2 separate regions of the Homo sapiens genome follow, and region 1 is linked to region 2. Evidence: fine-mapped expression QTL. A gene starts in region 2. The other region holds a variant in brackets. All regions are shown on one strand. Distances are from middle to middle.

Region 1 (4,326 bases), 49 kb after region 2:
ATTTCTTCCTGGAAGTGGTGAGCCAGTGGTACGAGCTGGTGGTGTTTACAGAAAGCATGGAGATCTATGGCTTTGCTGTGGCAGGTAAACTGGACAATAGCAGAAGCATCCTTAAGAGGAGATATTACAGACAGCACTGCACTTTGCAGTTGAGCAGCTACATCAAGGACCTCTCTGTGGTCCACAGTGACCTCTCCAGCATTGTGATCCTGGATAACTCCCTAGGGGCTTACAGGAGCCATCCAGACAATGCCATCCCCATCAAATCCTGGTTCAGTGACCCCAGCGACACAGCCCTTCTCAACCTGCTCCCGATGCTGGATGCCCTCAGGTTCACCGCTGACGTTCATTCTGTGCTGAGCCGAAACCTTCACCAACATCGGCTCTGGTGACAGCTAATCCCCCTCCACTTGGGTTGGGGTGGGGGGGCGGGGGGGAAAGGGATGGCGAGCCCTTGGGATGCCATCTGATGCCCTGTCCAATGTGAGGACTGCCTGGGCAGGGTCTGCCCCTCCCACCCCTCTCTGCCCTGGGAGCCCTACACTCCACTTGGAGTCTGGATGGACACATGGGCTGGGGGCTCTGAAGCAGCCTCACTCTTAACTTCATGTTCACACTCCATGGAAACCCCAGACTGGGACACAGGTGGAAGCCTAGGGGAGCCGAATCAGTGTTTGTGAAGAGGCAGGACTGGCCAGAGTGACAGACGTACGGTGATCCAGGAGGCTCAAAGAGAAGCCAAGTCAGCTTTGTTGTGATTCGATTTTTTTAAAAAACTCTTGTACAAAACTGATCTAATTCTTCACTCCTGCTCCAAGGGCTGGGCTGTGGGTGGGATACTGGGATTTTGGGCCACTGGATTTTCCCTAAATTTTTCCCCTCTTTACTTTCCTTCTATTTTTCTCTCCTTAGACTCCCTCAGACCTGTAACCAGCTTTGTGTCTTTTTTCCTTTCCTCTCTTTTAAACCACACATTATAACTTTGAAAAAAAAATAAATTAGAAAAAGGACAGCAAACTAAATGCAAAGCAAGAAGAAGCAAGGAAATAATAAAGATTATAACAGAAATGAATGAAGTAAAGAATAGAAAAATAGACAATTCAGAACCAAAAGTTGTTTTTTTTTGTTTGTTTGCTTGTTTTTTTTTTTTTTTTTTTTTTTGAGATGGAGTCTCACTCTGTCACCAGGCTAGAGTGCTGTGGCCTGATCTCGGCTCACTGCAACCTCCAACTCCCTGGTTCAAGGGATTCTCCTGCCTCAGCCTCCTGAGTAGCTGGGATTATAGGCATGCGCCACCACGCCCAGCTAATTTTTGTATTTTTAGTAGAGATGGGGTTTCGCCATGTTGGCCAGGATGGTCTCAATCTCCTGAACTCGTGATCCGCCTGCCTTGGCCTCCCAAAGTGCTGGGATTACAGGCATGAGCCACTGCGCCTGGCCTTTTTGTTTTTTTTTTGTTTTTTTTTTTTTTTGAGATAGAGTCTCACTCTGTCGCCCAGGCTGGAGTGCAGTGGTGGCACAATCTCAGACAACCTCCGTCTCACAGGTGCAAGCGATTCTCCTGCCTCACCCTCCCAAGTAGCTGGGACTACAGGCGCCTGCCACCACACCCAGCTAATTTTTGGTATTTTTAGTAGAGGTGGGGTTTCACCATATTGGTCAGGCTGGCCTCTAACTTCTGACCTCTGGTGTTTCACCCACCTTGGCCTCCCAAAGTGCCGGGATTACAGGTGTGAGCCACCACACCCAGCCCAAAAGTTGCTTCTTTATAAAAAATGAGGCCGGGCACTGTGGCTTACGCCTGTAATCCTAGCACTTTGGGAGGCCGAGGTGGGTGGGTCACGAGGTCAGGAGATCGAGACCATCCTGGCTAACATGGTGAAACCCCGTCTCTACTAAAAATACAAAAAATTAGCCGGGCATGGTGGTAGGGCACCTGTAGTCCCAGCTACTCGGGAGGCTGAGGCAGGAGAAAGGAGAATGGCGTGAACCCAGGAGGTGGAGCTTGCAGTGAGCCGAGATTGCTCCACTGCACTCCAACCTGGGTGAAAGTGCGAGACTC[C/T]GTCTCCAAAAAAAAAAAAAAAAAAAAGGAAAATTGACAAACCTTTAGCTAGATCAACCAAGAAAAAAAGAAGACTACAATTGTAAAATTTAGGACTGAAAGTGGTGACAATACTACTAACCTTATAAAAATAAGAAAATTATAAGGAAATATTATGAATAATTGTATGCCAACAAATTATTTACCCTAAATGAAATGGATAAGTACTTAGAAAGTCACAAACTACAAAAACTGACTCAAGTAGAAATAGAGAATTTGAATAGACCTATAACAAGAAAAGAGATTGAATTAATGATAAAGAACCTACCACAGAGAAAAGCCCAGGCCCAGGTGGCTTCATTGGTGAACCAACTGTTTACAGTAGAATTAACACCAATCCTTCACCCAGTATTCTAAAAATAGAGGGAACACTTCACAACTTTATCTATGAGTACAGTATTACCTTGATACCAAAACCAGACATCACCACAAGAAAACTCTGGACCAGTATCCCTTATGAACAATGACACAAAAATCCTCAACAAAATATTAGCAAATCAAATCCAGCAATGTATGAAAAGGTATATACTATTATCAAGTAGAATTTATACAAGTTGAACTCAAAGCAGAGAGTAAAGTGGTAGTTGCCAGGGGTAGGAAGAAATGGGGAGATGTTGGTTAAAGGATACAAAGTTTCATTTATGCAAGATGAATGAGTACTGGAGATCAAATGTGCACCATGCTGACTACAGTTAACAATACTGTGTTGTATACTTGAAATTTGCTAATAGAGTAGATCTTAAGTTTTTTCACCAGTACAAAAAAAGAAAGAAGGCAAGCAAGCAAATGATAACTACATGAGGCAATGGATATGTTAATTAACCTGATTGTGGCGACCACAATGTATATGCATATCAAAACATCAAGTTGTATACCTTAAATATGTACCATTCCTATTTGTTAATTATACTTCAGTAAAGCTGAAAAAAAATTTTTTAAATACAAATGCTGTTGAGGATGTGGAGAAAGTGGATCCCTCAAGTACATTGTTGGAAAGATTGTAAAATGATGCAGCCACTTTGAAAAACAGTTTGGCAGCTCCTCAAAATGTTTACCATAGATCTGTTCTTGCAAAAACTTGTACCCCAATGTTCATAGCAGCATTTATTATTCATAATAGCCAAAAAGTAGAAACAATCCAAATGTCCATCAAGTGATTAATGTATAAATAAAATGTATGACCTGGTGTGGTGGCTCATGCCTGTAATCCCAGACTTTGGGAGGCTGAGGCGGACAGGTCACCTGAGGTCGGGAGTTCGAGACCAGCCTGACCAATATGGAAGAAACCCCATCTATACTAAAAATACAAATTAGCCGGGCGTGGTGGCACATGCCTGTAATCCCAGCTACTCGGGAGGCTGAAGCAGGAGAATCACTTGAACCGGGTAGGCAGAGGTTGCAGTGAGCCGAAATCGCGCTATTGCACTCCAGCCTGGGCAGTAAGAGCAAAACTCCTTCTAAAAAAAAACGTATATCCACACAGTGGAATATCATTCAGTAATAAAATGTAGTGAAGTAGTGATACATGCTACAACATGGATGAGCCTTGAAAACATAATGCTAAGTGAAAGACGCCAGTCATAAAAGAACACATCCTGTAGGATTCTGTTCTTATGAAATGTTTAGAATAGGCAAGTTCATAGAAACAGAAATAGTAAAGTTATTGCCTGGAGGAGGGAGTAATGAGAAGTGACAGCTGATGGAGTCAGTTATCTTTCTGGGTTGACAACGTGTCCTGAAATTAGCGGTGATGGTTGTTTAACTTTGGATATGTGAAAACCGCCTGAATTGTACACTTAGAGGGATGAATTTTCAGGTATGTGAATTATAGCACAGTAAAGCTGCTGTTAAAAGAAATGGTTTAAGGGGAACAGTAGAGATTTCCTGCAGATAAGAAAGCCTCTTTTTTTTTTTTTCGAGATGGAGTTTTGCTCTTGTTGCCCAGGCTAGAGTGCAATGGCGATCTCGGCTCACTGCAACCTCTGTCTCCTAGGTTCAAGTGATTCTCCTGCCTCAGCCTCCCGAGTAGCTGGGATTACAGGCATGCGCCACTGAGCCTGGCTAATTTTGTATTTTTAGTAGAGACAGGGTTTCTCCATGTTGGTCAGGCTGGTCTCGAACTCCCGACCTCAGGTGATCTGCCTGCCTCGGCCTCCCAAAGTACTGGGATTACTGGTGTGAGCCTCCACCCAGACAAGAAAGTTTCTTTCTTTGAAGCTGGCAGG
Region 2 (4,393 bases):
TACATCCCCATGGATAACAGGGAACTCCTAAATATTTTAGTGTGAGTTTTCTAATATTAAAGACACCCTGCAACATAGCCACAAGTTATTATTATTATTATTATTTATTATTATTATTTGAGACGGAGTTTCACTCTTCTTGCCCAGGCTGGAGTGCAATGGCCTGATCTCGGCTCCCTGCAGCCTCCACTTTCCAGGTTCAAGCGATTCTCCTGCCTCAGCCTCCCAAGTAGCTGAGATTACAGGTGCTCACCATCACGCCCGACTAATTTTTGTATTTTTAGTAGAGACAGGGTTTCACCATGTTGGCCAGGTTGGTCTCAAACTCCTGACCTCAGGTGATCCTCCCACCTCAGCCTCCCAAAGTGCTGGGATTACAGGCTTGAGCCACCACGCCCAGCTGCCAAAAATTATTAATTATCCATAAATGAATATCCATAAATGTATACATAAATCATTAATTATCCTGTAACATCAACTCTAATAGCCATTTCATATTCACTATTCCTCAATTGTTCTAGAATGTCTTCCCTCCCTCCCTTCCTTCCTTCTTTCCTTCCTTCCTTCCTTCCCTCTCTCTCTCTTTCTTTCTCTCTCTCTGTCTCTCTTTTCTGGAGATGGGGCCCCCCTGTTTTGCCCAGGCTGGTCTTGAACTCCTGGACACAAGCAACCCTCCCACCTTAGTCTCCCAAAGTGCTGGAATTACATGAGTTAGCCACTGTGCCTGGCTTAGAATGTCTTTTTTATAGCTGTTTGGTTGGGAACTCTGAACCCCAAATATCTGAGACAGGCCTCAGTTAATTTAGAAAATTTATTTTGTGAAGGTTAAGGACACACCTGTGACACAGTCTCAGGAAGTCCCAATGACATGTGTCCAAGGTGGTTGGGGTACAGCTTGCTTTTATATATTTTGGGCAGACCTAATACATCAATCAATACATGTAAGATTTACATTGTTTCAATCTGGAAGGGGAGACAGCTCCAAGGCGAGAAGGAGGAACTTTCAGGTCATTGGTACATAAAAAAATTTTCTGATTTGCAATTGGTTGAAAGCGTTATTATTGACTGGGAGCTGTGGCTTGCACGTGTAATCCCAGCACTTTGGGAGGCCGAAGGGGGCAGACTGCTTGAGTCCAGGAGTTCGAGACCAGTCTGGGCAACATGGCGAAACCCTGTCTCAAAAAACAAACAAACAAACAAACAAACAAACAAACAAAGTAGTTAAGCATGGTGGCACACGCCAGTAGTCCCAGCTACTCGAGAGGCTGAGGTGGGAGGATTGGTTGAGTCCGGGAGGTGGAGGTTGCAGTGAGCAGAGATTGCGCCACCGCACTCCAGCTGGTCTAATAGAGCCAGAACCTGTCTCAAAAGAAAAAGAGAAAAAAGAGTTATTATCAGTAGAAAGGAATGTCTGGGTTAGGATAAGGGGTTGTGGATACCAAGGTTTTATCATGCAGATGCAGCCTCCAAGTAGCAGGTGTCCGAGGCAATAGATGATAAATATTTCTTCTCAGACTTAAGGTCTGTGTTGATGTTAATGAGGCATGTCCAATCCCCTCTTTCATCATGGCCTGAACTAGATTTTCAGGTTAAATTTGGAACGCTCTTGGCCAAGAGGAGGGGTCCATTTAGATGGCTGGGGGTGGGCCTCGGCATTTTATTTTTGGTTTACAGAACCAAGAATCTGCAATACGTACAGCAGTTAATCAGTAACTTCAATCCTTTATTGGAAGGAACAAGAGTTTCCTGGCCGGGGGCGGTGGCTGACGCCTGTAATCCCAGCACTTTGGGAGGCCAAGGCCAGCGGATTGCCTGAGGTGGGGAGTTCGAGACCAGCCTGACCCACATGGTGAAACCTTGTCTCTACTAAAAATACAAAAATTATCCGGGCGTGGTGGCAGGCGCCTGTAACCACAGCTACTCGGGAGGCTGAGGCAGGAGAATCGCTTGAACTGGGAGGCGGAGGTTGCAGTTAGCCGAGACGGGGCCTTGGCACTCCATCCAGCCTGAGGAATGAGAGCGAAACTCCGTCTCAAAAAAAAAAAAAAAAAGTTTCCGAGCAATTCACCTTTTCGCACATTGGGGCAGGGTATGCCATTTCCTGGGAGGCACAGTAGTTTGAGGTTGGGAATAGGGAAGTCTCATTGTGACCCCTAGAAAGACAAGCCTTCAGGCTAACCCGGTAACACCCATCGTCAGGAATCCTTCACGGCCGCCAGAGGGCGCAAGGAGCTGCGGCTGGAAGTACTCGGAGGGCCGGCGGAGGAGGCGCGCGGAGCCTGTAACTCGCAGCGCGCGCTGGAGGTGGGCGCGGGGCGGTGCGGTGCGGTGCGCGCGGGGCGGTGCCGCGGCGGCGGAGGGAGCCGCGATGGAGGGCGCTCCGACTGTCCGTCAGGTAAGCCGCGGGCCTCGCTGGGGCAGGTTCCCATCTGTGGCTTTAGCCTACTTTTTCTCACGGTGATTGCTTGAACCTTCTCAGATTACAGTTAATCCCTCCCTTCCCTTTTCTTCGTGCTCTTTGGAGTAATACGGAAAGTTGTTACCGAGGAAACGGTTTCCTGTGCCTCTGCGAGCCCTTTCCCTACGGGCGGTGGTGGGGACATTTGCTTCCCTGTGGGCGTTGAGGGCTTGAATTTGGTCCCGAAATGTCCTGGTGCGGATGTCTCAGCCCCAGGCCCCCTTGGGTCAGGCCCCATGGTCGTGATTCTGACCCACTGTCAACGTTTTTTCCAGCCTTGCCCCCTTCCTTTCATTCTCAGCCCTGTTGTAAAGGTCCGGATAGTTTAAATCACTGTGCTGTCAGCCAAGTTTTTGATTTCAACTAGTCTAGTTTTATTTGTTTACTACCTTATTTGACAAAACGGAAAGCGTGCTTATTAATATTCAGGATGAAACCCCGCTTTTGTTGGACGGGCGCCTGCGTTTCTGAACACCATCCTCCTTCTACATTGGTTTGTGTGTATGTATTTTACTTTTAGAGAACTGCGGTCAGTGCTATATCTTCTGAAGAGCGTTATAGTTTACAGATTAGTGGAGGTACACAAATAATTGTTGAATGAACAGATGAATGAGTGTTATTTCACTTGATTTGAAAAACATTACTATGAAATAGTCAAGCTGGATATTCATGAACCCAATCAGTCACTGATTCAGTTATGTCCCTGGCACTGGGTGTTCGGGATTAGATGGTGATTAACACAGACATGATCCCTGCTCTCAATAAGCTTATTGTCTAGACTAGAGATAAAATTATTTCCTCTATTGTAGAGTTAAGGAACAGATGTACAGAGATTGACTTTGCTAAGGACCACACAGCTAATAAGTCAGAGAGACAGGAATCTACTGTAGCCACCCCAGAAAGCCAGAATGGACCCCCATCCCAAATTTGATTCAGGTGTAGAAACTGATGATGCCACACACACACCATGAGGTTGGAGTAGAAACTGATGATGCCACACACACACCCTGAGGTTGGAGTGCAGTGGCGCAATCTCGGCTCACTGCAAGCTCTGCCTCCCGGGTTCACGCCATTCTTCTGCCTCAGACTCCCCAGTAGCTGGAACTACAGGCGCCCGCCACCACGCCCGGCTAATTTTTTGTGTTTTTAGTAGAGACGGGGTTTCACCGTGTTAGCCAGGATGGTCTTGAACTCCTGACCTCATGATCCGCCCGCCTCGGCCTCCCAAAGTACTGGGATAACAGGCTTGAGCCACCACCGCGCCCGGCCCTGAAAAAGTCTTTTACTTACATAATTAAGGTCTCCAGGGAGAGCAAGGCAGGCCTCTCAAGCAGCACTAAAATGGCTTAAGAGAGCCTCAGGAAAAAACTGGCTCCAGGTCTTTTTTTCACCCTTGATGTTTGATGACTGACCTGCACCATTTGAATTTGAATTTGAATTTAAGTCAGCCATTGTGGCCCAGTGCAGTGGCTCATGCCTGTAATTCTAGCACTTTGGGAGGCCAAGGCAGAAAGAAGTATCGCTTGAGGACAGGAATTTGAGACCAGCCTGGGCAACAAAGCAAGACCCTGTATCTACCAAAATAAAAAAAAAAAAGAAAGAAAAATTAACTGGGCATGGTTGTGTGGCGCCTGTGGTCCTAGCTATTTGGGAGGCTGAGATAGGAAGATCACTTGAGCACAGGAGGTTGAGACTGCAGTGACCCCTGTTTGTGCCATTGCACTCCAGCCTGGGTGACAGAGACCAAATTATTTTCAGAAATTTAACCAAGGTGGTAGGCCTTACACTATGTGTGGCACAATAGCCCATCCTCCTTTTGTGAGCTCCTTTGTGAGTATGTCAAAAGACTGTCCTCAGGGGAGGATGTCATCAATGGAATGTTATACTTGTGCTCCTGGAGAAAATTTGATGCAGTTAAGATCTTTCCTGTAAAGG

Evidence for each region. PIP is the estimated chance that this variant, and not a neighbour inherited with it, causes the effect.
Region 1: its variant is the best candidate, but not a certain one, in a credible set for the expression of GRAMD1C in whole blood (TOPMed, PIP 0.61).

The regions. Positions count from the first base shown.
Region 1 is chr3:113,885,640-113,889,965 of GRCh38, forward strand. All of the region lies in intron 6 of GRAMD1C (GRAM domain containing 1C), which reads left to right. It also overlaps the pseudogene CTDNEP1P1. Among named protein-coding and RNA genes, the nearest start is that of GRAMD1C, 49 kb to the left of the region's middle. The variant C/T (reference allele first, on the strand shown) is at 2,063.
Region 2 is chr3:113,836,542-113,840,934 of GRCh38, forward strand. GRAMD1C (GRAM domain containing 1C) reads left to right here and starts at 2,247. Exons shown (of 18, transcript NM_017577.5): 1 at 2,247-2,395. The coding sequence starts at 2,369. RefSeq lists a silencer at 2,260-2,459.